Linked DNA regions of Homo sapiens. The protein of the gene in region 1 interacts with the protein of each later gene in a pairwise test. Each region holds a gene or a part of one and is shown on either strand. Other genes may lie near its edges.

Region 1 (3,500 bases):
CCTGCCTCAGCCTCCTGAGTAGCTGGGACTACAGGTGTGTGTCACCACGCCTGGCTAATTTTTTGTATTTTTAGTAGAGACAGGATTTCACCGTGTTAGCCAGGATGGTCTCGATCTCCTGCCTCGGCCTCGACCCGCCTTGGCCTCCCAAAGTGCTGGGATTACAGGCATGAGCCACCGTGCCCGGCCGCTTTTTAGCAAATTTTTAAAAAATCAAAGAATAATCCTTTATTATTGAATGCGAACTTGGTTCTGGCCAAACACACATTTAACAATTCTCAACTAGAGTTTATATATCCTTCTTTGTATATCTAGGATATGAATAGATATTTCTGTCCTTCAGCATTCCATTTACTATATTTTACAGTATACTGACCTTTAAGTTATTCTGAACAGGAAGATAATATAAGGGGCAAAATACTTTTTAACAGTCTTATATTCTGCCTTTCTACAGCAGAGGCAGATTTTGACATAGTAACAAAGGGGCAAGTCTGTGAAATGACCAAAGAAATTGCTGACAAAACAGAAAAGTATAATAAATGTAAACAACTCTTGCAGGTAAGTTAACTACCTTGTAAGTGAAAGAGATTTATAAAATGTTAATGACTTAGCTTACCTTTATTGTTTCAATTGATTGGTATCTTTGAGTTTCTTTTCCATCTCCATATAGTGTTACTTAGTTTCACTTTGGCTTTTGGGATGATGAGGTGGGCGTTTTGTGTACCTGTTCACATAGGCGTGTGTGTAGCATCATGAGACCTAAAGTTACTATTTTCTTTTCACCTAATAAAATGTTCTTGTTTGGGTAATGGGCAAATAGTTAATTGAGGTTAGAAATTATCTGTCATCGTATAAAGATGCATGAAAAATATTTGAACTTCATAAAAGGGAAGTGCTGTTTTTAAATTTACTATTATCGGCCAGGTGCGGTGGCTCACGCCTGTAATCCCAGCACCTTGGGAGGTCGACGTGGGTGGATCGCTTGAGGCCAGGAGTTCGAGACCAGTCTGGCCAACATGGTGAAACCCTGTCTGTACTAAAAATACAAAAATTAGCCAGGCTGTGGTGGAGCATGCCTGTAGTCCCAGCTACAGTCTCCTGAGGCAGGAGAATCACTTGAACCCGGGAGGCGGAGGTTGCAGTGAGCCGAGTTTGCACACTGTACTCCAGCCTAGGCAACAGAGCGAGTCTCTAAAAAAAAATAATAAATAAAATAAATTACTATTATAATAGCAAAGATTTTTACATCTTAAAGTGACTAGACTTGCATAGTGGAAAAGGGAATGTTAACCAAATGAATTGTCTCTTACGGTGTTTATTTTGATTATTATTATTTTATTTTATTTTTTTTTTTGATACGGAGTCTCACTCTCTCGCTCAGGCTGGATTGCAGTGGCGTGATCTCAGCTCACTGCAATCTCCGCCTCCTGGGTTCATGCCATTCTCCTGCCTCAGCCTCCCAAGTAGCTGAGACTACAGGCGCCTGCCACCACACCCAGCTAATTTTTTGTATTTTTAGTAGAGGCGGGGTTTCACGATGTTAGCTAGGATGGTCTCTATCTCCTGACCTCGTGATCCACTCGCCTCGGCCTGTCAAAGTGCTGGGATTACAGGCATGAGCCACCGCGCCCGGCCTATTTTGATTATTTTAAACAGCTTCATTCAGACTTTTCTGGTTTGCAGCCTTCTTGGTGTAGTATTCAGTACTGGAATATTTAAAGGAAAAGGGAAAATGCTTCTCATTTATATCAATTTGGCATAGAGAGGAAAAAGTGTTGTTTGTGCAAGTGATTTTTGTTTGTTTTTTTAAATGTGCTTTGTGTGTTTTTGTGTGCATTGGGGAGGGGAGGGGCATTTTTTAGAGCTATAGAATAAAATTTACACATTAGCTTCATGTTACTGTAATTTAATTTACAGTAATTATTTAAAATATTTTGTTGCTTATAAATAGCAAAATCTTTTAACCAAAGTTAAAATGAATTTTTTTTTTTGCTTGAGAGAATCCTGTGGAAGGGTTGATTAGAACAGTTTTACTCTTGAATTCAGGGTAGTTTTTTGTAAGAGTGAACTACATTTTCGTTAAAGATGAAACAATTCTGGATGAATATTTCAAGATTTTTCTATAGAAATAGTATTGAAAGGAAGATAGAATAATGTTCAAGCAAAAACCTTCCTCAGGGTGCTTTTTTTTTTTTTTAAACAACCATATTGAGGTATAATTGAAATCCAATGAATTGCACGTACCTAGAGTATACAGTTGGATCAGTTTTGACATACACAGTTGTGAAACTATCACCACAGTGCCATCACTCTCCCAGTTTTTTTGGTACCTGTTTGCAACACATCCCTTTCGTTATCCTTATCTCTAGGAAATTATTGGCCTGCTTTCTGTCACTATCAATTAGCCTACCTTTTAGACAATTTTATAAAATGGAGTCATGTAATATGTACTTTTTTCTACCCACTTTCAGCATGATTATTTGAGATTTATTCATATTATTGCATATATTTATTCCTTTTTTATTTTATCATTTGTTTATCCATTCACCACTTGATGGGTAGTTGGGGTTGTTTTTCGGCTGGTACAAATAAAGCTGCTTATGAACATTTGTTTAGAAGTTGTTTATGGACATATGTTTTTTTTTGTTTCTTTTGGGTAAATATCTAGGGGTGAATTGCCTGGGTGATATTGTAGTTGAATAACTCTGTAAGAAATTACCTCCTGGGTGCAGTGGCTCATGTCTGTAATCCCAGCACTTTGGGAGGCCGAGGTGGGAGCATCACTTGAGGTCAGGAGTTTGTGACCAGCCTGGCTAATATGGTGAAACCCTTTCTCTACTAAAAATACAAAAATTAGCTGGGCATGGTGGTACACTCCTGTAATCCCAGCTACATGGGAGGCTGGGGCAGGAGAATCGCTTGAACCCGGGAGGTGGAGGTCGCAGTGAGCCAAGACTGCACCACTGCACTCCAGCCTGGGTGACAGAGTGAGACTCTGTCTCAAAAAAAAAAAAAAAAAAGAAATTACCAAACTGTTTTGTAAGGTGTTTGTACCATCTTACATAGCCAGCCTAATGGGTGTGTACTGATAGCTCATTGTGGTTTTAATGTGCATTTGTATAATGACTTGATGTTGAGCATCTTTTCTTATGCTTATTTGCTCTTTATCTCTTTGTGTGAGTGGTCGAATCTTTTTGGTAGTTTAAATATAGGGTTGTTCATCTTGAGTTGTGTTTTTTTTTTTTCTGTATATGTCTTTTGTCTGATATATGTAAGGTGAATATTTTCTCCAAGTCTGTAGCTTGCCTTTTCATTTCCTTAATGATGTTTTTAGAAAAGCAAAATTTAAATTTTGATAAAGTACAGTTTATCAGTTCATTTATGTTTTATGCTTTTTACCTTCTAAGGAATGTTTGCCTAATCCAAGGAGATAAAGATTTTCTCCTGTGTTGTCTTCTAGAAGTTTTATAATCAGCTTTTCTATTTAGGTCTGTGAATCA
Region 2 (3,500 bases), on another chromosome or scaffold:
GAGAAAATTTTATAAAATAAATACACGTTAGAAAAGATTTCAAATCAGTGGCGATACATTCATCTTAGAAAGTTAGAAAAAGAAGAGCAAATTAAACACAAAGTATTCGCAAAGAATAAATATAGTTTAAATCAATGAAATAGAAAACACACAACCAGAGAAAATTCAAGGAAACTAAAAGGCAATAAAGAAAGATTAATAAAACTGATAAGCCTCAAGACAGACTGACAGAGGAAACAAACAGAAAATAGAAATTACCAAAATCAGGGATGAAAGAGGGGTATCACTATGGATTCCGTAAACATTAAAAGAACAAAGGAAATATTACAAATAACTTTATGACAATAAATTTGACAATTTCTATGGAATAAATTCCCAGAAAAACCGAAATTACTAAAACTAACTCAAGAATAAACAGAAAGTATTTAACACAACTATTAAAGGAATTAACTCTGTCGTTAAACCCATTCCACAAAGAAACTCCAGGACCAAACCGTTTCACTGGCAAATTTTAACACTTATAGATGCAAAAAAAGCACTTACCAAATTCAATACTCATTCAAGATACAAACTCTCAGAAAACTAGAAATAAAATGTCATTTCCTTAATCTGAAAAGGCATACATGAAAGTCCCACAGCAGACATCATGCTTAAATGTAAAAACCTGAATGCTTTGCACCTAAGATAAGGAAAAAGGCAATCATGTCCACTCTCACCACTTCCATTCAACACTATTTTTAAGTCCTAGCTACTGAAATAAGGCAACAACAATTAACAAATAAAACAGGCACAGAGACTGAAAAGAAAAAAGTAAAAGTCTTTTTCACACATGACATACCATTTACCTAGAAATCCTAAGAAATCTACTAAAAAAGCTACTAACACTAGTATTAGTAATTTTAACATGGTGATAAGAGGCAAGGTGAATATATCAAAAGCAGGTTTTTTTTCACTTTTTTCTTTTTTTTCTGATCCTAATGTTTCAAGTCACTTCTATAATTACATACTAGCTGTAAACACATTTAATTTAAAATTCCACTCACGATAGCACTTCCAGAAAACAAAATGGAAAAAAAATAACAAACGACATGTAAGATCTCTACACTAAAAATTTCAGAACATTGTGAGAAAAATCAAAGACATAAATGGATAGAGAGATGTACCAAGTGCATAATGGATTGAAAGAATATTTTAACATATCTATCTCCCTAAATTCCTTCCAATAGGGAAAATTCAGCCTTTTCAACAAATGATGCTAGAAAAACTGGAAATCCACGTGGGAAAAAAATAAACTGACACTACACAACATAAATAAAAATTATTAATGGATTATAAATAAGCAAAAAAGCCAAAGCTATAAAACTTCTAGGGAAAAAAAATAGGAGGCCAAGCATGGTGGCTCACACCCGTAATCCCAGCACTTTGGAAGGCTGAGGCAGGAGATCACTAGAGCCCAGGAGTTCGAGACCAGCCTCGACAATATAGTAAGACTCCATGTCTACAAAAACAACTTTTCTGTACTACATCTGTAGTCATAGCTAATTGGGCTGCTAAGGCAGCAGGATTGCTTGAGCCCAGGAGTTTGAGGCTGCAATGAGCCATGATGGTGCCACTGCACTCCAGTCTGTGCAACATAGTGAGGCTCCATCTCTAAAAACAAACAAAAAACAAAAAAATTTAATAATAACATAAACATAGGAGAAATCACAATCTTGAGGTGCGCAAAAATTAGGATACCAGAAGCACTAAGAAAAAATGATGAAAAACAAAAAAGAAAATATTTAATAAATCAGATTTCACAAAGACATGGAATGCCCTATGGGGACTTAAAATGATGCTCTACATCCTTGTTCTTCAGAGAAATATCACACGAGACATTACACAGTAGAATAGCTAAAAATTACTAAGACTGACAATACCAAGTACTAGCAAGGATGTGGAATTCCTTGGTGACTCCTAGTGCTAAACTTGCCTCAGAGCCAATGGACAGGTGGTTGGGGGGCAACTGGTGCAGCTAAGGGAGTGCTTACACCACCTCTCCCCCAACCCAAGGCTGCACAATGTGCAGCTCCAAAAGAGACCCTGTCCTTCTGCTTGAGGAGAGGAGAGAGAAGAGTAAATACAGGACTCCATCTTGCATCTTGAATACCAGCTCAGCCATAGCTGGTAACCACTAAAGAGCCCTTAGGCCCTGAATAACCAGCACCAATAATCGGGTACTACACTGTGGCCTTCACTGTGTATCTGAGACTTGCTGGATTCAGGTGAGACTCAGCACATTCCCAGCTGTGGTGGCTATGGGGAGAGCCTCCTTCTGCTTGAGAAAAGTAAAGGGGGCTCTGTCTTGCGCCTTAGGTACCAGCTCAGCCACAGGGTGGTAGAACACCAAGAGGGATCTTGGGGTCTCCAGCCCCACGCCTTGGCTCTTGGATAGCATTTCTGGATCTGCCCTGGCCCAGGGGGTGCCCACTGCCCTGAAGGGTGAGTCCCAGGCCGGGCAGCTGACTGAAGAGTTCTTGGGCCTTAAGGGAACATCAGTGGTAGCCTGCCAGTACTACCTGTGGGTCTATGGTGGTGGCTACAGGGTGAGGCCCCTCTGCCTGTGAAAAGGGAAGAGTGGGAAGGACTGCCATTCATAGGTTGAATGCCAGCTCAGCCACAGTTCAATAGAACACCAGGTACAAGTCTAAGGTTTTTGACGCCAGTACCTGGGTCCCTGATGGCACCTCTGGACCCACCCTCAGGCCTGGGGGAACTTGCCACCCTGAAGGGAAAGACGCAGGCCTGGCTGGCTTCATCACCTGCTGATTGCAGAGCCCCAGGGCCTTGAGTGAACACCAGCTGTAGCCAGGTAATTGTTACAGCAGGCCTTGGGCAAGATCCAGTGCTGTGCTTAGCAATAATTCCCAAATCATATCCCTATCCTCTTAGCCTTTCTCTGAAATTCAAGATCAACATTTCCAATATTTTCTGGACATCTCTAAGTAGATGTATCCCAGATATTTTCATATCATAACTAGTAATATATTTTTTACGTTTTCTTGTATTTTAACTTCCCATAAGTTACACATTCAAATAAAATGTTCTCAAATAGCTGCTTTGATTAATTTTAGTACATACTTACTGATGAGCTATCAGATGACTCATTGTTTTTTTCATATTTCTGTTTCTTGCTCTTTTTTTTCTTTTCTTTCTTTGCTTTTTTTGAATGCTTGTCTTTTTTCTTCTTTTTCTTCACAGAGTGTTCCTACAATCATTTTGAACAGGCAAGAAAATAATTTAATTTCATCTTAATTTAAAAGGATGTATTCTGAGAGAAAAAAAATAAACCACATTCTAAAAAACTTTCAATCTCTGATGAAATAAGACCAAGAATATGTCTAAATAAATAAAATCTTTCAGGAAATCTTAACACACCTTCTATAATATATGCACTATCAATAAATCATATAACTGAGACTTCTTACCAGAAAAATACTGGGAAAATTTTGGCTTTATTT
Region 3 (3,500 bases), on another chromosome or scaffold:
TGGGTAGATCATTTGAGGTCAGCAGTTCGAGCCCAGCCTGGCCAACATGGTGAAACTCCGTCTCTACTGAAAATACAAAAAAATCAGCCAGGTATGGTGGCACACGCCTGTAATCCCAGCTTACCGGGGAGGCTGAGGCAGGAAAATCGCTTGAACCCGTGAGGTGGAGGTTGCAGTGAGCTGAGATTGTGCCACTGCACTCTAGCCTGGGCTACAGAGCGAGGCTCCATCTCAAAAAAGCACCACCACCGCCACCAACAACAAAAAACACACAAAAAATAAGATGTTTAAATCAGTTAATACTGTGATAGAAAAAATAAACAAATGGATGGCATCAACTTCTCTATCCTTTTCTTGACTTTTTTTCCCTTCAGATCTTTCTGGTGCTTGAATACATGATTTAACTCATATTTTACCATTTTCTTCTTAAATTGGCTATTAACTAGCAAAGACTGTGTTGTCATTACTGGGTAGAATTTTCTTTATGTGTCCAGGATTAAAGGATATATTATGTAATAGACACAAATAAGTGAAATAGAATGATAGTTTTAATGGTTTTCTTGTAAATCTTTTTTTCTTAGATCAGCAATCGAGTCCTGTATGTGTTTTTCACACATGTGCAAGAACTCTTTGGAAATGTGGTACTAAAGCAAGTGATGAAACCTCTGCGATGGTCTAACATGGCCACGATGCCCACGCTGCCAGAGACCCAGGCGGGCATCAAGGAGGAGATCAGGAGACAGGTGTGTGCACCCTGCCTGCCACAGCCTGCCTCTGCATTGGCTGTTGTGGAGTCCAGTGGTGATGGGCTCTTGTTTCCTGAACACTTTCTGTGTGTCTGGAGCTATGTTAGGCACACTGAAGTCAGAAATTCCCATCTGGTACTGTTTCATGCCAAATAAGTCAGAATACCATGGTGGAAAGAGCATAGTTTTTGGAATCAAAACACCTGGCTTTAAATTCTTGCTCTGATCTAGTTAACTGATTTTAGGCAAATTCTTAACCACCTTAAGCACTGGTGTTCTTGCTTTAAAATGGATCCTCTTATAGGATTGATGTGAAGATTACCCCAAATGAGATAATATATGAAACATGCCAGGCACGTTGTAAATAGTCTAAAGATGTTTGCCTTTTCTTGACAAGGTTGCTGTCATCAGCCATATTTTATAGATAAGAATATTAAAATTCAGGGAAGTTAAGTAACTTACCCTGTGTGACATGATTACTAATTACAGACCCAAGATTTGAGCCCAAATCCTGGGATTTTTTACTGTGCTATTTTGATGGAAGTAACAATGCCGTGTGTGTGTGTGTGTGTGTGTGTGTGTAATTCAAGACTAAATAAGAAAGTTAATTACATTTGATTATTTATTTGCATGCAATTTATCAAACCCCTGCTTGCTTTTCTTCCCTTGTATCTGCCCTGAGCTCCCAATGCTTACTAGTTAATGATGATGACATTGGAGATGGGGATGTGGATTAAGTATTATTGAACCAATACAAATTAGTGAATAATTAATAGGCAAAACAATAAGAATGATTTTTCAATCATATCTTCAAAAAAATAATTAGTGCCATTATTTTACTCTAATGAAATAAAGGATAATTGAAAAATAGTTGATTCTTCATCTTTAGAAATTGCACGTGTTGTTAGTTTAAGATAAGAGGATATGAAATGCAACTAGGTGTGTGGCATTTGCTTTCTAGGAGTTTCTTTTGAATTGTTTACATCGAGATCTGCAGGGTGGGATAAAGGATTTGTCTAAAGAAGAAAGATTATGGGAAGTACAAAGAATTTTGACAGCCCTCAAAAGAAAACTGAGAGAAGCTAAAAGACAGGTGAGTTATTATTTTGATACCTAATGTTTATAATAGAATGTGTTTGAGTCTTTTATGTACTTTATGTACTCTTTTTTTTTCTTTCTTTCTTTTTTCTTTTGATGTTGACCAGGGTGGTCTCAAACTCTTGGCCTCAAGTAATCCTCCCACCTCGGCCTCCCCCAGAGTGCTGGGATTACAGACATGAGCCACCACCCCCAGCCCAAGTTCTTTCTGTTAAGAATATTATAATGTCACTTGAAGTGAACTTCTCTGGTGGGACATTTATTCACTAAAATGTTTCTAGTCCTATATTATTGATATTGCAGCCTGGTGTCAGTCACATGTTTCAGTGTAATCTAGAAAGTTTTTTTTTTTTTTTTTTTTTGAGACAGGATCTTGCTCTGTCACCCAGGCTGGAGTGCAGTGGCACGATAATGGCTCACTGTAGCCTCGACCTCCTGGGCTCAAGGGATCCTCCTACCTCAGCCTCCTGAGTAGCTGGGACTACAGGTGTGCGCCACCATGCTCGGCTCATTTTTTATTGTTTGTAGAAATAGGGTCTTGTTATGCTGCCCAGACTGGTCTCAAACTTCTGGGCTCAAGCAGTCCTCCCACCCCCCAAAGTGCTAGGATTATAGGCATAAGCCACCATGCCTGGCCTAGAAAGTTTTGTTTTAATTAAAAATGATTTTACTAAAAAATTTGTCATTTCCTGCTTGGTTATACCTGTAAACAGGGCTTTCTATGGATGAAAAACAGGCTGGATGGTGACACACCTTTGGGGACTGCTGGGGAATTTAAGGCATTTAGAATTAGTCAGCTCTTTGGAAATGTAGTGATGAGGGTCACCTGGAAGGCCTTGAAGATCAGGAGAGATTCTATTTATGTAATAATAATAAGAGTGGCCTGCAATACCTGATGAGTTTAGGGTATGCCAGTCAGACTTTTGAGTTCCCTCTTGTTTAGTGTGTGTTGCTTGGTTCTGGGACTGTGAGTGTACCAGCCACAGCAATGGTAAAATCCCAGATCTCTGGATCACCTTAAAATCCACATTGCAGATCAACTGCAGCATCTAAACAGCACATCCAAGGAACATTAGTTAGCCCTTGCCTGAATTGGGGAACATGATAGTAGGTCTCTGTTGTGGTTGTGTTAAAGAGACAAAGACAACCTGAATACTTCTGTTTCTTTGAGGTTAGAGATTTGTATTAATGTGGAGGATAGCTTTGTCACACGGGGCACATTCATGGGACTTTTACACGTGCGCTCCAGGATATGTAATGTAGCAGAAGCCCTCTGCGTATTTTTCTTCCTTCTTTTTCCTAGCTCACTAGGTTATCTATCTCTTGCTTCCTTTACGTGTTTTTTGTTTTTGGTGTTGGTGTTGCTGTTAAAATTTTCCCTTCATGTCTCAGCCTAGAATCAGGTATTAGAGATGGACCACTCAGGCTTCAGGGGCAAATTGTAATTGTTAATCATATGGCATTGCCAGTCAGCCTTTAAATGAAGAGTCCCCTGACTGACCTAGGACAGGGCTGATGGAGGTTTGGCTTTTGTTTCTCTTGCTTCTACATCTTGCCTAAATAAAGGAATCATGGTATAGCAGCCAGAACCAATATAAGAAGGGATGGATTAACTTTGCTTTACCGATTTTCCCGATGCTATGTTTTCACGCCAGC
Region 4 (3,442 bases), on another chromosome or scaffold:
GCATGCATGTGTGTGCATGTGTGTATAGGTGTGCATGTGTATGTGTGCACGTGTGTATGTGCACGTGTGTATGTGTATACATGTGTATGGGTGTATTTGCGTGTGGATATGTATGCATGTATGCACGTGTGTGCATATCTGTGTATGTGCAACTGTGTATGTGTGCACGTGTGTATCCATGCATATGTGTGCGTGTGTGTACATGTGTGTATAAGTGCGTATGTGTGTTCCCGTGTGTATGCATCTGTGTCTGTATTGTGTGGCATGTATGTGTCTATTGTGTGTGTATGCATGTGTGCGTGTATGCATTTATACATGTGTATGTGTGCGCATATATGGATGCATGCATGTTGCCTGCATGTGCACGTATCGGGTGTGTGTGCGTGTACGTGTACACGAATATGCATGTATGCATATATGTATGCACGTGTGTGTAAATTCTGCCGTGACTGTTTTCCTGTGGAAAGGCTGAGTGTGCAGGTTCTGTGCCTGTGGGGGGCTGTTCTTCACGTATGTGTTGTGTGGCTGTGCACAGGTTCTGTGCCTGTGGGGGGCTGTTCTTCACGTATGTGTTGTGTGGCTGTGCACAGGTTCTGTGCCTGTGGGGGGCTGTTCTTCACGTATGTGTTGTGTGGCTGTGCACAGGTTCTGTGCCTGTGGGGGGCTGTTCTTCACATATGTGTTGTGTGGCTATGCACAGGCAGACCATGCTATAGTCCTGTAGCTGTGTGGATGCGAGCGGAGGGGGTGGGGGGCCCAGGGGAGGCCCCCTCCCCTGAGCTCTACTCCTCCTAGGACATCCTGGACCTGGAGAACCAGCGAGAAAACCTGGAGCAGCCATTCCTGAGTGTGTTCAAGAAGGGGCGGCGGAGGGTGCCTGTGAGGAACCTGGGAAAAGTTGTGCATTACGCCAAGGTCCAGCTGCGGTTCCAGCACAGCCAGGTGGGGGCCGGGCTGGGTGGAGCACGCTAAGGGTGCAGCATCCCCATCAGCCTGGGGCTCCCCAGACTCCGCACTGACGACCCTGCTCCCCGCGCAGGATGTCAGCGACTGCTACCTGGAGCTATTCCCCGCCCACCTGTACTTCCAGGCCCACGGCTCGGAAGGACTCACATTTCAGGTGAGGCGGTGGGCAATGGGGTGGGGCCATGGCCGCCCTTCCCTCCATGGATCCCTGAAGCTCCTCCTACCCTGTGCCTGGCAGGGGCTGTTACCGCTGACGGAGCTGAGTGTCTGCCCGCTCGAGGGGTCCCGAGAGCACGCCTTCCAGATCACAGGTGTTTGGGATGCTTCCCGGGCCCCCAGAGGCACTCCTGACCCAGGACTTGGAGAGGGGCCTGCCCTGTGGCTGCGGAGCACGTGTGTGTATGTGTGTGCCCTCTCTGCCCTGCCCGCAGGCCCACTGCCCGCACCCCTCCTGGTGCTCTGCCCCAGCCGGGCCGAGCTGGACCGCTGGCTTTACCACCTGGAGAAGCAGACGGCCCTCCTCGGGGGGCCGCGGCGCTGCCACTCGGCACCCCCACAGGTCAGTGCCGGGGACCCCACCCCCCTCCCCACCCTGATCCTCGCAGCCGGCTCTGACCTCCTCCTCACAGGGGTCCTGCGGAGACGAACTCCCCTGGACTTTGCAGCGCCGTCTAACCCGGCTGCGGACGGCGTCAGGGCACGAACCCGGCGGCAGTGCTGTCTGTGCCTCGAGGGTCAAGCTGCAGCACCTGCCCGCACAGGTGGGTGGGAGGTGCGTGGGGCTGTAGGGGGATGGGAGGGGTGCATGGTGGTGGGCAGGGCGGTGCAACAGCAGCTCAGTTCCCTCATCGCCTGACCCCACCCCCACCCACCCAGGAGCAGTGGGACCGGCTCTTGGTCCTGTACCCAACGTCCTTGGCCATTTTCTCCGAGGAGCTGGACGGGCTTTGCTTCAAGGTGGGCCCCTCCCCACTGTGGGCCCGCCCCAGGGAGGCAGCTGTGTGGGGGTGGGAGGGGGCAGCCATGCAGGAGGAACCTGTATTTCGGGGCTTGTTGAGACAGAGCGCAGGGCCCTGCCCACCCAGCCCGCGGTCCTGGTCAGTCTGGTCTCCGCTGTGACATGGAGGAGCCCCTGCCCGCCCTGAGGTTCTCACCCTGAGGTTCTTGACCGTCACCCTGGGGCGGGCAGCATGGGGCTGAGAGCCCCTCCCGGGGACTCCCTTGTGTGTGCCTGCCCGTGAGGCGTGTGTGTGCACACGTGCGTGTGCGTGTGTCCTCCAGGGCGGGCTCCGGGAAGGGGGTGTGCACTCACGGTAACCTTCAGTCACTGAGGAACAAACACAGGGCCCTCCCCATGGTTCACCCGGCCCAACTTCTTCTCTGGGGACCCCAAGAGGCCAGTCCTGTGGCTTTGTGTGTCTGCCCCTAGCCGGCGAAGGCCCCCGCGCCAGGGTTGGTGGTAGCCCCAGGAGACATGGGACCCACTGGCCTCCCTCAGGGTGGTGGCCTCGGTGCCCAGCTCTCCAAGTACCCAGCCAAGCTCTGGAGGGCAAGAGGGTGGGATGAGGCCAGGCGGGGCCCCGGGGCTGCCCCTACAAAGGCCTGGCCCTCAATCTCTGCTCCGCAGGGGGAGCTCCCACTCCGTGCCGTCCACATCAACCTGGAGGAGAAGGAGAAGCAGATCCGCTCCTTCCTGATTGAAGGTAGGGCCCTGACCCTGGTTCTGCCTCCCGCCTGGCCAGGCCATGGTGGGGCGGGAGCCTGGGGGACGCCCGACTCTTTAGTGGGGGCGCTGAGGGGTGCACCCCCCCGCCAGCCCCTCACAGCATCTGTATGCCAGGCCCCCTCATCAACACCATCCGCGTGGTGTGCGCCAGCTACGAGGACTACGGTCACTGGCTGCTGTGCCTTCGCGCTGTCACCCACAGGGAGGGGGCCCCGCCGCTGCCTGGTGCCGAGAGCTTCCCAGGGTCGCAGGTGAGGGGTCAATAGGCCCCACAGCCCAGGTCCTGGGCAGTGGTAAAAAGGGGGCAGCAGACCGGGCGTGGTGGCGCACGCCTGTAATCCCAGCATTTTAGGAGGCTGAGGCGGGCGGATCATTTGAGGTCAGGGGTTCGAGATCAGCCTGACCGACGTGGAGAAACCCTGTCTCTATTAAAAATACAAAAAAATTAGCCGGGCATGGCGGTACATCCCTGTAACCCCAGCTACTCAGGAGGCTGAGGCAGGAGAATCGCTTGACCAGGAGGCGGAGGTTGCAGTGAGCCGAGATCGTGCCACTGTACTGCAGCCTGGGCGACAGAATAAGACTTCGTCCCAAAAAGATAAAAGGGGGGACAGCACGGTGGGTCCAGGCAGGGGCGGGTGGGGAGGGGGTCCAGCCCTCACTCACCCCCACTCACTGCCCATCCAGGTTATGGGCAGTGGCCGAGGCTCACTCTCCTCAGGCGGACAGACCAGCTGGGACTCGGGGTGC
Region 5 (3,500 bases), on another chromosome or scaffold:
GTGCCTCCAAAATTCCTATCTCGAAGTCCTAACCCCCAGTCTCACTGAATGTGATTGTATTTGTAGACAAGGCCTTTAAAGAGGTATTTAAGGTTAAATGAGGCAACACAGGTGATGCAATCTGATCCAATCTGACTGCTGCCCTTATAAGAAGAGGGGATGAGGAAACAGACACACAAGAGGGATGGCCCTGTGAGGACACAGGGAGGGGACACCACCGGCAAGCCCCAGAGAGAGGCCTCAAAAGGAACCAGCCCTGGCAACACCATCATCTCTGACCTCCAGCCTCCAGGACTGTGGGAGAGTAAACTTCTGCTGTGGAAGCTAAACAGTCAACCCACACGCAGCGTCCCTGTCGCCATTTGCACCTCCTGGCAGCTGGTGCAAATCAGCCCAAAGCTAAGTGGCCTTGGCAGGTCTTTGCAGCCTTGGTGGCTAGGTGAGGAGGCCTTTTCTTGAGAAATCAAGAATGTGTCTCTGAAGCTGGGTCCATGAGAAATGGCGATCAGCGTTCACCATGTGAGAAAGGCCCAGACTTGGGAGAGCCGAGACTCCCCAGGGCTGTGGCCTGGGGATTATTTAAAAAGCTTTAAATGTTTTTAATAAGGACTTTCAGCTATTTAAAAAGATTGAGCTAGTACCATGGATTCCAACAACCCTATCATCTGGAGTAAAACAGAGACCATTCTGTTTTACTCAGCCTAGTGACTTAAATGTTAATCTCATTTTTAAAAAATACCTTCACAGTGACATCTAAAATAACATTTGACCCAATACCTGGGTACTGTGGAGAAGTACCCAGGTATTGGGTAGGGGGAGAGCCTGGAATGGAAGTCTCTGCTCGTAGCTCAGCCTGTGTCTAAACCGTGCTTTCAATGGCTGAAAACAGAACATGCATCTGCCTGTGAACTGGCCCCCCTCACACGGTCTTCTCTATAGGGATTTCACCCCTTCCCTACAGTAAGAAAAGACAACTGGCCACAGGTCTGGTAGAATCATGGCCCCAGAGATGATGCCCTAATCCCGGGAACTTGTGCATGTGACCTTATTAGGAAAGAGAGTTTCTGCAGATGGGATTGAGTGGAGGGTCTTGAAATGAGGAAATGATCCTGGGTCATCCAGGAGGGCCCTAAACCCCATCACAAGTGTGCTGATGAGAGAAAAGCAGAGGGGATCTGATACAGCAGCAGAGGAGGCCATGCAGCCAGAGAGGCAGAGACTGGAGCAATGTGGCCACAAGCCAAGGAACACCTGGGGCCACCAGGAGCTGGAAGAAGCAAAGAATAAATTCTCCCCTAGAATGTCAGAGGGAGCATGGCCCTGCCAACACCTTGACTTTGGACTTCCAGCCTCCAGAGCTGTGAGAGAATAAATGTCTCTTGCTTGGCACCGCCCAGCCTGTTATGGCAGCCCCAGGACACCAATGCAGCACCTTCTGTCTAGAGAATTGGTGCAGCCCTGCCTCATTCCATAGATCCCAGGGGTCAGTCCATTCCACTCCCCACAGGGCTTTCTTTTGCTTTATCATCATATTCCTGTGGCAAAGCTCCACAGAAGAACATTTAAAATGCTCTGAGCTCTTCCAGGAAGAAAATACCCCAAATCCAAAACTTCAGCCCGCAAGTTGAAAACTTCAGGGACTTTGTTACTAGGCAGAATGAGTTTCCAAGAGCATGCATGCTTTGCAATCTACTTGCAGATCAGCTCTCTACAGCTCTCTAGGATGTTTTAATATTCATTCTGGGATAGGGGCGGTGGGTGCTGCCTCTTGGTGTCAGTGTAGGCAACCTCTGCATAACCACACTTCACATGCAAGAGAGCAAGACAGCAAGACAAACCTTCCCCTGAAGCTGTTCCCCAGGAGATGCATGTTTCTATCCTGAAACAAACAACTGAAGTTTTCCAATAAGGGAAAGCAATACTATTCACTTGGCCTTACCGTATATCCGTTTTGAAGACTCAGCCCAGTGACCCTAAGAAAGTGTTTGCATGGTGACTGCAAACGTTCTCACTGGCTCACCAATCCCATAGTTTATGCACCTACCAAATGTAGCCAGGGCCACCGAGAACTGTCTGGTCCTGATAAATTTCAGCAGCTGGAAATTCTGCATCGTCCGGGCCAGCGTGGACTTCACAAGGGATCCACAGGATCTGGCAGGAGCTGCCCGTGGTGCTGACCCCGAGAATGCTTTCAAGGCAGGTGAAATTGGCCCCCACCCTACTTTCTGGTGTCCCTTCCTTCCCAGTAGTTTCCAATCACTTCCCTAGGTACAGGGACACCACGGGGGACCACTCTTGCCAGAGCGAGTGGCCAGTTAGTGCAGACCCTTGAGACTGGATCACTGTTCACAGAAGAAAGTCCAGACAGGAATGATCAGCTGCACTGGCCAGGTGGAAAATGAGTCCCTTCCTCCCTGAGGGTGTTTGGATGTTAAAGCCATTTGCATTTTCCTCTCTAGGATTTGGAGGGAATCAGGGCGATGCTGGGGCTGGTGTATGAGGGTTTATGCAGACAAGGCTTACCTCTCCTCACCTCTCTTCCTTACCCTGCTCAGTAGGAAAACACACACAAGAGCTGCCCTCTCATTTTAGCCCAGAGAGAGCTGTGTGGCCAAGAGGGAGCAGGGCAGGGATAGTGCCTGTCTGAGCTGCCTCCTGCCCAGGGGTCCTCCCTACCCCGTCCATCCCTGGTCGCCTGGGCTCCAGGCAGGATTTGGTCCCCAGAAGGCCCCACAGCCCACCTCCCGTGGCAGGCCGTGTTCGCTCTGCCCCCACCATCTCTGTTAATGACTCATCTTTCCATGTTCATCCCTTGGCCCAGGGAGACCTGCAGCTCCCTAAAGCAGGGATGCTGTGGACTGCAGCTTCATGGACCAGCATGTGACATGCTCCCCCCTGCGGTGCCATGTCACAGGGAGGTTGAGGCATGAGTCCTGGGTGCCAGAGGGCAGCACCACTGGGCCTGTGTTGCTGCAGGGTTCCCCACCTCTTGCTCTGAAATGGACCCCCCTGGATAGCCTGGGCCTGGCTCTGGGGCTGGGAATGTAGGTGAAGGGCCGATGTCAGCTGGCACATTAGTGCCCTCCAGGGAAGCAGCCGAGCCTGGTGTCTCCCTCCAGGGTCCTGGTGCAGGGCTTATGCTCCACGCAGCTGTCCTGGTGGCCTCTAGCTGGCTCGGCCCCTAGCACTCTGCTCTCTGGTCCCAGGGGGGGCATCCTCAGCTCTCATTCACTCTCTTCATCTCATTTGCTGTGGGTTCCTCTCAAGGCCAGTCCCTCAACTTGATCAGCCCTGCACAGCATGGGGAGAAGGGTGGCCTAGCCCCTGAGGACAGAGCCCCCCACAACACCATCCCACACAGTGGAGGCCCCTCCCAAAGGGTAGCCAGCCTCGCTGCCCCAAGCATGACCTTTGGGCTACTTCCCCAAAGCACAGGCTCCCCAGAAAGAGGGCGGGCGTGAGCCCTGTAACTGCAAGGCTCCAAGGCCATCCTGCGGCTG
Region 6 (3,500 bases), on another chromosome or scaffold:
AATAGTCCACTAACTTGACTTTCCCACAAGACATATATCACAATAGAGTTTCTTGCTAAATGTAGATATTCAGATTGTATAAAAACAAATGCTCATATCTCTATCTGGTTAAATTCACAGAGCATGATTACTTAAACAAGGTATATAACAGTTTGAAGGCATATGCTGTACATTGCTTAATGATCTCCAGGAAAGTTATACCAATTATTCTCCTAGCAGAAATCTACAAAACTACGCATTCCCTCACATTCATTCTAAAACACTAGGAATTACGTTTAAAAAAAAAAAAAAAAAATCCTTGCCACCTTAAGGGATGAAAGATAGTATTTCATTATAATTTCTAACTGGCATTTATTTGATCCCTGGTGGTCCTTTGGTATTCCTTCTTTTAGAGAAGTAGGCAGTTTATGTCCTTTGTCCATTTTCTTCTATTAAGTAGGGTTACCTATTTTATCCATGTTCTACATAGAAAATAAAAACATTCAAGTGCTAAACCCAGCCTAAATTCTATTATGATGCAAAGTAATTGTAGGTTGTTAATGCTATTTACAAATCATATATCTATTTTATTTCACCATTGAAATAAAAAGTTGCATTCACAATTAAGTCTGTCTCCTCAGGAGAACTCAGTCAAGTAAGACAAACACTCCTAAATTTTGACTCTAAAACTGTTCACATTCTTATTGCTGCGAAATACTATTCTAGTATCATTATTAAAGTACCTAATATATTTCTGTGTTCGCTTCATTTATTACATGCCATAATGGGACTGCATATCTTTAGTGCCGGTTATGCACAATTAGCACTTAGTTATTGTCTTGTCACTTCAGCCCCTACAAGACAAACTAATGCGGGAAGTCAGCTAATCTTCATCAGTCAAGCAAAGCAGACAAATTTTGTTACCCAGGATACAGAAGGTTTTCATATAGGAGATTCTCCTTTTACTCTGAAGTTTGCTTCAGTCTCCTCCAGGAAACCCATATCCCACTTCCAGTAGCCAAATCATTGTCGCAATATTGCACTTTTCAAGTGAAACACAAGGCAAATAGGTAATTCATAGGCATTTTCTCTTAAGCAAACTTTATTGACGTCTAAAGTTGTGGAATTACGCGTTTGTGAATTGTATTCAGCAGTCATTTCATCTTTACCTTTAAATCAAAGTATCATTAAGATCCAAAGCATTTCTGAATGTTTTAAAAAGTAGCAGTAATAATAACCTTTCAGGATTGATTGTCCCTTATATATAGATCTCCTCTGCCCCTTTTAGAGGCGTATAGCTAAAACGTGAATCCTGCATTAAAATTCGGCTAGTTTCTCTATTTTAAAAGGTACCGCAGGAGGGTTATTTAAGCTTATTTTATGATATCTTGAATCTCATTCAGAATTGGAAGATTCTATATAACAGGTTAATTTCTTAAAGGTGAATAAGCCCCTTCTCCTTAGAAAACACAATAAAACTAAATGATAGTTTTGTAAGAAAAGGAAAAATAAAAAGCTTGTGATGAAATTTTCCCAAATATGTAAAATTATGTAACAATTAATTAATTTTCTTTTTTTTAAGAATAAAGCACTGTGCTAGGCTCTGTGGAAGCTGAGGTGGATAAAATCTGGTTTATTTCTTAGAGGTGTCCGGAGCTACGGGAGAGACAGGACATCAAAGACTCACAGAAGAGTGTAATCGATGCTAAATAGAGCTATACTGAGGGAAGAGAGAGCCATCCTTCTTGAAGTGTTAGGGAAGCATCAAAGGCCTGATATGCTGGGTCTTGAAAAAAGAACTCCCTAGAACTGGTTGACTTACAGGAAGTGTGTCTGCTCGGGGTTGGGGAAGATGAGGGAGCCAGGGAGCAGTGAGGAAAGGAATTTTCAGGCAAATTGAGCAACGTGCAAAGGCATGCAGATGTGAAAGCATTTGACGTGTTTAGGAAATGAAAAGCGGCTCAGTATGTTCAGAGATTAGAGAAGCGGTTTGGTAGGCACATGGAGGAGTAGAAAGAGAGCAAGCACCTAGAGGAAATGAAATTGTAAACTTAGTCTTTGAAAAGCCATTAAATAAAAGTCAAAATGAATACAAATTTAAATTAGTCATCTAAAATACATTTGTTATTTAAAGCTGTTGGTTTCTGGAATAAATCTACCTTAACCAATTTTTATTGACCACACACCTTAAGTGGTAGTACAGTTTATGATGGTTCTGCAAAGGGTTCAAAAGAAATATAACTCGTGGTCATTTACCGCAGAACTGCTGACTATAATGGCAAACCAGTTACACATTCATGAGAAATTTTGAAACACCAAAATAAACAATACACCAATAAATAAGTGCTTTGGGAAACATCAGAATAAGCAAATTTACATGGTCAGAAGATGTTGATGGAGGCAATGGGAACTCAAGGATTGTTACAATTTAAGTAGACAGAAAAAGGGGAGAAATATTTCTTGCTAGGGAACAACTTAAGTAAAGGTGAAAAGATTATCATTACCAAATAATAATGATAGCAAATTCTGATAAAGTATTAGTCAAACACCAAACACCGTTCTGAGTGTTTTACATGTACTCATTCGTTTAATACTCAAAATATCCCATAAATAGGTAGTTATTAGCTTCATTTGACAGATGAGGAAAGTAAAGTATAGGAAATGTAAGTAACTTGCCCAAGATTACAGTTAGAAGAAAGTGGTAGACTCAAGATTTAAACCTGGCCGGGCGCGGTGGCTAATGCCGGTAATCCCAGCACTTTGGGAGGCCGAGGCGGGCGGGCGGATCACGAGGTTGGGAGATCGAGACCATCCTGGCTAACACGGTGAAACCCCGTCTCTACTAAAAAATACAAAAAAATGAGCCGGTCGAGGTGGCGGGCGCCTGTAGTCAGAGCTACTGGGGAGGCTGAGGCAGGAGAATGGCGGGAACCCGGGAGGCGGAGCGAATCTGGTCTCCCTCTCCGGAGTCAGGCCCATTTCAAGAGAGGTATTTTATTTTCTGACTAAGAGCATATAAATGTGAATAGATATAGTGGACTTAAAGTAAGGTAAACTTTGAATAATGTATAGCAAGATTTGGGGTGTGGGTAGTGTCATTTGATACACTAAGGGTTGTTAGCAGTGAGATGTATAATGACAACCGGACTGTCAGTGGGAAAGACAGTAAATTTGTTCACAGGTGTATAGTGGAGGAATGAGTACACAACCCGGACTTCTTATTGAAAACAGTATAGTATAGAAATCTCTAACTTACAGTTAACTGAAGATGTGGAATAGGAAAGTATAGACACTAGAAATATGGATTGGAGCTCCCTAGCTAAGTGTTGTAAGATAGAAATTAATCATAATTGTCAGTCACTAACATTAGGGAAAGAAGATGGCTAGGCTAACATTTTTATTTCTTAAAAGGGATGTTACCAGTGGAGGCTTCTTAGCATAGGCTTTTGATAACCTGCTTAAAACTAAGCACTATATTTTATAAGGATGATTTACTATTTACACTTGTTTCATATACTTCT
Region 7 (4,286 bases), on another chromosome or scaffold:
GGGAGGATTGCTTGAGCCTAGGAGGTCGAGGCCAGCCTGGCCAACATAGCGAAACCCCATTTCTGCTAACAACAAGAACAACAGAAAAATAGCGTGGGCGGGGTGGCTCACTCCTGTAGTTTTGAGGCCAAGGTGGGAGCATTGCTTGAGCCCAGGAGTTTGATACCAGCCTGGCCAACAAAGCGAAAGCCTGCCTCTCCTAAAAAATAAATAAATAAATAAATAAATAAAAATGAGCGGGGTAGAATGGCACACGCCTATAGTTCTGAGGCCGAGGTGGAAGCATCATCTGAGCCTGAGAGGTTGAGGCCAGCCTGGGCAACATATCGAAACCCGGTTTCCACTAAAACGAAACAAAACAAAACAAAAAATAGCTTGGGCAGGGTGGTGCATGGCTGTAGTCCTGAGATGGGAGGATCCCTTGAGTCCAGGAGCTTGATGCCGGCCTGGCCAACATAGGGAAACACGGTTTCTACTAAAAAAAAAAAAAAAAAAAAAAGCGTGGGCAGGGTGGTGCATGCCTGTCGTCTCGAGGCCATGGCGGAAGGATCCCTTGAGCCCAGGACGATGAGACCAGCCTGGCCAACATAGCAAAACCTGGTTTCTACTTAAAAAAAAAAAAAAAAAAAAGCGTGGGCTGGGTGGTGAATGCCTGTAGTCCCGAGGCCGAGGTGGGAGGATCGCTTGAGCCCACGACGTCAAGACCAGCCTGGCCAACACAGCGAAACCTTCTCTATTAAAAAATCAAAAAATAAAAAATATTAGTGGGGGTAGGGTGGTTCGCGCCTGTAGTCCCAAGACGGAGGCTGGAGGATTGGCCAAGGCAGATGTAACCAATACCACAATCACATCCCATAAGTAAATACATTTTCCTCTCTTCAGGGCTACAGGTAAAGGATGGTAATTGTGCGCACCATACTTAAGATTCCCTTTCAAAAATGTAAGCAGAGGTTGCGGGGCCTTGGACTGTTTTTTCAGTGGCAACAGACATAGAAGCCACTGAAGAATGAAAGCCACGACTAAGTATAGCAAACCTCCGCAAATGTGCTAGTTTGGAAAACATCGTGTCTTTCAAGTAGAAAAATCACAGATTGACTATTTTTTTCTTCCCACAGTTCAGACTAGAATCCAGATTTTTAACCCAAGATCCAGGAACGGTCTTCAGAGAGTTCAAAATCTGACGGCGCCTGAGGACCACCCACTTTTTCGCAGTGGCAACAAAGTGTGGCTGGAGGAGGAGACATTATTCTGCTATGTCACTGCCCAAGGATGATGGACCAATCAGGGCAGTTAGTGAACTCCATCTGGCCAATTAGAAGTCAGAACAGTAGGCGGAACAAGCGAAGCGGATGTGGCTTCTATCAGTCCCGGCTCCAGGGACGGAACCTTCTCAAAGTGGGGGTGGAGACTCTAATTTTCCCGCCTAAAGCATCCCCTGGGATTGGCTACTTTAAGTTCAGAGTACGCATGCTCTGACTTTCTCTCTCTTTCGATTCTTCCATACTCAGAGTACGCACGGTCTGATTTTCTCTTTGGATTCTTCCAAAATCAGAGTAAGCATACGCCGATTTTCTTTTTCCATTCTTCCTACCCCTCCCCTCCTCCGCGGTGCATTTGCTATCTAGTTTTAATAAGGAGTGTATATGAGGCAGGCCGCCATCTCGAATCTTTCCTGTCAGTTTCTAACTTTTTCAGGTACGGGATTTTTCCTAGGAACTCTGTAGTAACTTAAGAAATTTGGGCCGGGCGTGGTGGCTTACACTTGTAATCCCTGCACTTTTGGAAGCCACAGCTGGTGGATCGCCTGAACCTAAGAGGCGGAGGTTGCAGTGAGCCATGATCACGCCAGTGCACTCCCGACTGGGCAACAGAGCGAGACCCTGTCTGAAAAAACAAAAACCAAAAAAGCTCACTCAAATCTTTCCTCCTGGGCTCAAGTGAGCCTCTCGCCTAGGCCTTGGGGCTACAGGCGCGCACCACCCCGCTTCTGCTAAATTTTGTTTGTTTTTTTTAGTAGAGATGGTTTTGCTACGTTTGCGAGCCTGGTCTCAAGCTCCTGGGCTAAGGCGATCCGCCCACCTTGGCCTTCCAAAGTGCTGGGATGGTACAGGCCTGCTCCACCAACCCCAGCTAACTTTTTGTGTATTTTGTAGACGGGGGTTTTGCTGTGTTTCCCAGCCGGGTCTCGACCTCCTGGGCTCAAGCGGCCTGCACGCCTCGGCCTCCCAAAGTGCTGGGATTACAGGCGTGAGCCACGGCGCCTGGCTGATTGCTGCATCTTGAAATGCCCCACATTCTCTCTAAGTGATGGCGGGCTCTTGTAGTCTCAGAAATTCTAGCTCTCTTCCTTCTAATAATTTACAAATCACCGAGTAATAGCCTCTGAACACGTTCATATTAGCGATGCTCATTTCTCTTCAACAGAACAGAACCCCCCATCCCTCTGCCTGATCAGATCCATCGCCAAAGAGACCATGTTATCTCTGGGACTAACTTCCCTTCCTTTATTTATTGAGTGGGGGTGTCAGCATGCCCCCACTGAATAAAATTACACAGTCATGTCCCTGCCTCCCCAAAAAGGGTCCGTACATCTTTCAGGGTAAGCCTAGCTCCAGGGAAACTACTAACAACATTAGCCAACCCCCTCCCAAAGACTCAAGGCTGCTTTGCCCATAGGAAACCTGTCATTCCCTATCAATACTTCTCCCAGAGACCCCTGGTTCCCTGTTTTCATCTGATTTCTCCCCATATCCTTACTCAGGGACAGATAAGCCCCGGATGGAGAAATGCAGCAGCTGATTCCAGGTGACTGAGGGTGGCCGGCCTTCACTGACTTCTCCCTCCACAGGATCAAAGCTGCTGTGGCTGGAAAGACTCAGGCTATTTCTCTTGCAGGTCAGACTGCTCCCGGTGCCATGAACGGAGACGACGCCTTTGCAAGGAGACCCACGGTTGGTGCTCAAATACCAGAGAAGATCCAAAAGGTGAGGTGACCTGGAGGGAGCAGAGTAGTGGCCCAGGGGACAGTGTGGGGTGACCCGGTTTCTGAGGAGGGGAGGACAGAGATACTGGAGACAAGGAGCAGGGTCTCGGGGGAGATCTGGACCCTTGGGAGCCTCCCACCCTCGCTCTGTCATCACCTAGCATCCCTGGAGACAAGTCTGTGACCTTGCACTACATCTGGTGACTCTCAGTCCATTCTGGAAGGTGGGAAGAGAGCCAGCCAGCAGCATTAAAGCCCTACTGTGTGGCAGGGGTGAAGCTAGGGAAGGTCCCTCGTGTTCTGTCAGTTAGCCATGGCATCAACCAGGAAGGATTATCATCCCCAGTTCCCAGATCTAGCACACAGGAAGCGGCTCCAGCTGAATGGCAGACATGCCTAGCTGAGTCCCTGCCATAATTCCTTTTTTTTTTTTTTGTAGGCCTTCGATGATATTGCCAAATACTTCTCTAAGGAAGAGTGGGAAAAGATGAAAGCCTCGGAGAAAATCTTCTATGTGTATATGAAGAGAAAGTATGAGGCTATGACTAAACTAGGTAACAGAAAGTTCTGGGAACAGACAAGTCTGGGGACACATGAGCATCCCTTTTCCTGCTTTGGCTACTTCTTAGGCTGCAGAAAGTACCTCACATTTTCCTTTTGTGCAGGGAAAAATCGCAAGGCAGCTTCTGGGTGTTCTGCTCTTCTGTATCCTGTCAGGGCTGAGGGCAGGGACTGGCCACAGTGGAGCTTATACCTGGATCCTGCACGTTTCTCTCCCTTAGGCTTCTGTTCTGATGAGCCCAACTGTCTCTGTGGCATCCCGGCAACCCCCCTACCCCCACCCCACACACACCCACCCTACCTTCTCTCGGCTTGTCTCTTCCTTTTTTTTTTTTTTTTTTGAGTCAGTCTCAGTCTGTCACCTAGGCTAGAGGGCAGTAGTGCAATCATAGCTTACTGCAGCCTTGAATTCCTGGCCTCAAGCAATTCTCCAGCCTTAGCCTCCCAAAGTGTTGGTACTACAGACATGAGCCACCATACCAGGCCCAAGCTTGTCTCTTAAGGAATAAACATTTTGCTTCTTTCTAGGTTTCAAGGCCACCCTCCCACCTTTCATGTGTAATAAACGGGCCGAAGACTTCCAGGGGAATGATTTGGATAATGACCCTAACCGTGGGAATCAGGGTGAGTAGATGGGAAGGGGCTGGAAAGGGTCTCCTCAAGCCCAGCTGCTTTTCAGCTCAGCTACCTGAGAAAGATCCTCAGGCATTTGTTCCCTCATACACATCAGGGCTGAGTGAAA

The links.
Region 2: the proteins of TAX1BP1 (region 1) and CWF19L2 interact in binary tests that used the Homo sapiens proteins (3 or more experiments, as listed by UniProt).
Region 3: the proteins of TAX1BP1 (region 1) and RALBP1 interact in binary tests that used the Homo sapiens proteins (3 or more experiments, as listed by UniProt).
Region 4: the proteins of TAX1BP1 (region 1) and PLEKHN1 interact in binary tests that used the Homo sapiens proteins (3 or more experiments, as listed by UniProt).
Region 5: the proteins of TAX1BP1 (region 1) and UBASH3A interact in binary tests that used the Homo sapiens proteins (3 or more experiments, as listed by UniProt).
Region 6: the proteins of TAX1BP1 (region 1) and LMO3 interact in binary tests that used the Homo sapiens proteins (3 or more experiments, as listed by UniProt).
Region 7: the proteins of TAX1BP1 (region 1) and SSX2 interact in binary tests that used the Homo sapiens proteins (3 or more experiments, as listed by UniProt).

Annotation. Positions count from the first base shown.
Region 1 is NC_000007.14:27,795,662-27,799,161, forward strand, and holds part of TAX1BP1 (tax1-binding protein 1), read left to right. Parts: intron 1-454; coding exon 455-558; intron 559-3,500.
Region 2 is NC_000011.10:107,451,326-107,454,825, forward strand, and holds part of CWF19L2 (CWF19-like protein 2), read right to left. Parts: intron 3,248-3,500; coding exon 3,125-3,247; intron 1-3,124.
Region 3 is NC_000018.10:9,524,013-9,527,512, forward strand, and holds part of RALBP1 (ralA-binding protein 1), read left to right. Parts: intron 1-581; coding exon 582-743; intron 744-1,707; coding exon 1,708-1,839; intron 1,840-3,500. UniProt on the Homo sapiens protein: Multifunctional protein that functions as a downstream effector of RALA and RALB. As a GTPase-activating protein/GAP can inactivate CDC42 and RAC1 by stimulating their GTPase activity.
Region 4 is NC_000001.11:969,482-972,923, forward strand, and holds part of PLEKHN1 (pleckstrin homology domain-containing family N member 1), read left to right. Parts: intron 1-795; coding exon 796-942; intron 943-1,039; coding exon 1,040-1,120; intron 1,121-1,204; coding exon 1,205-1,277; coding exon of another isoform or gene 1,278-1,397; coding exon 1,398-1,525; intron 1,526-1,595; coding exon of another isoform or gene 1,596-1,631; coding exon 1,632-1,727; coding exon of another isoform or gene 1,728-1,738; intron 1,739-1,842; coding exon 1,843-1,923; intron 1,924-2,593; coding exon 2,594-2,669; intron 2,670-2,806; coding exon 2,807-2,943; intron 2,944-3,379; coding exon 3,380-3,442. UniProt on the Homo sapiens protein: Controls the stability of the leptin mRNA harboring an AU-rich element (ARE) in its 3' UTR, in cooperation with the RNA stabilizer ELAVL1.
Region 5 is NC_000021.9:42,427,902-42,431,401, forward strand, and holds part of UBASH3A (ubiquitin-associated and SH3 domain-containing protein A), read left to right. Parts: intron 1-3,500. UniProt on the Homo sapiens protein: Interferes with CBL-mediated down-regulation and degradation of receptor-type tyrosine kinases. Promotes accumulation of activated target receptors, such as T-cell receptors, EGFR and PDGFRB, on the cell surface.
Region 6 is NC_000012.12:16,554,163-16,557,662, reverse strand, and holds part of LMO3 (LIM domain only protein 3), read left to right. Parts: intron 1-3,500.
Region 7 is NC_000023.11:52,704,379-52,708,664, reverse strand, and holds the start of SSX2 (protein SSX2), read left to right. Parts: upstream 1-1,486; 5' UTR 1,487-1,553; intron 1,554-2,895; 5' UTR 2,896-2,915; coding exon 2,916-2,984; intron 2,985-3,422; coding exon 3,423-3,537; intron 3,538-4,072; coding exon 4,073-4,168; intron 4,169-4,286.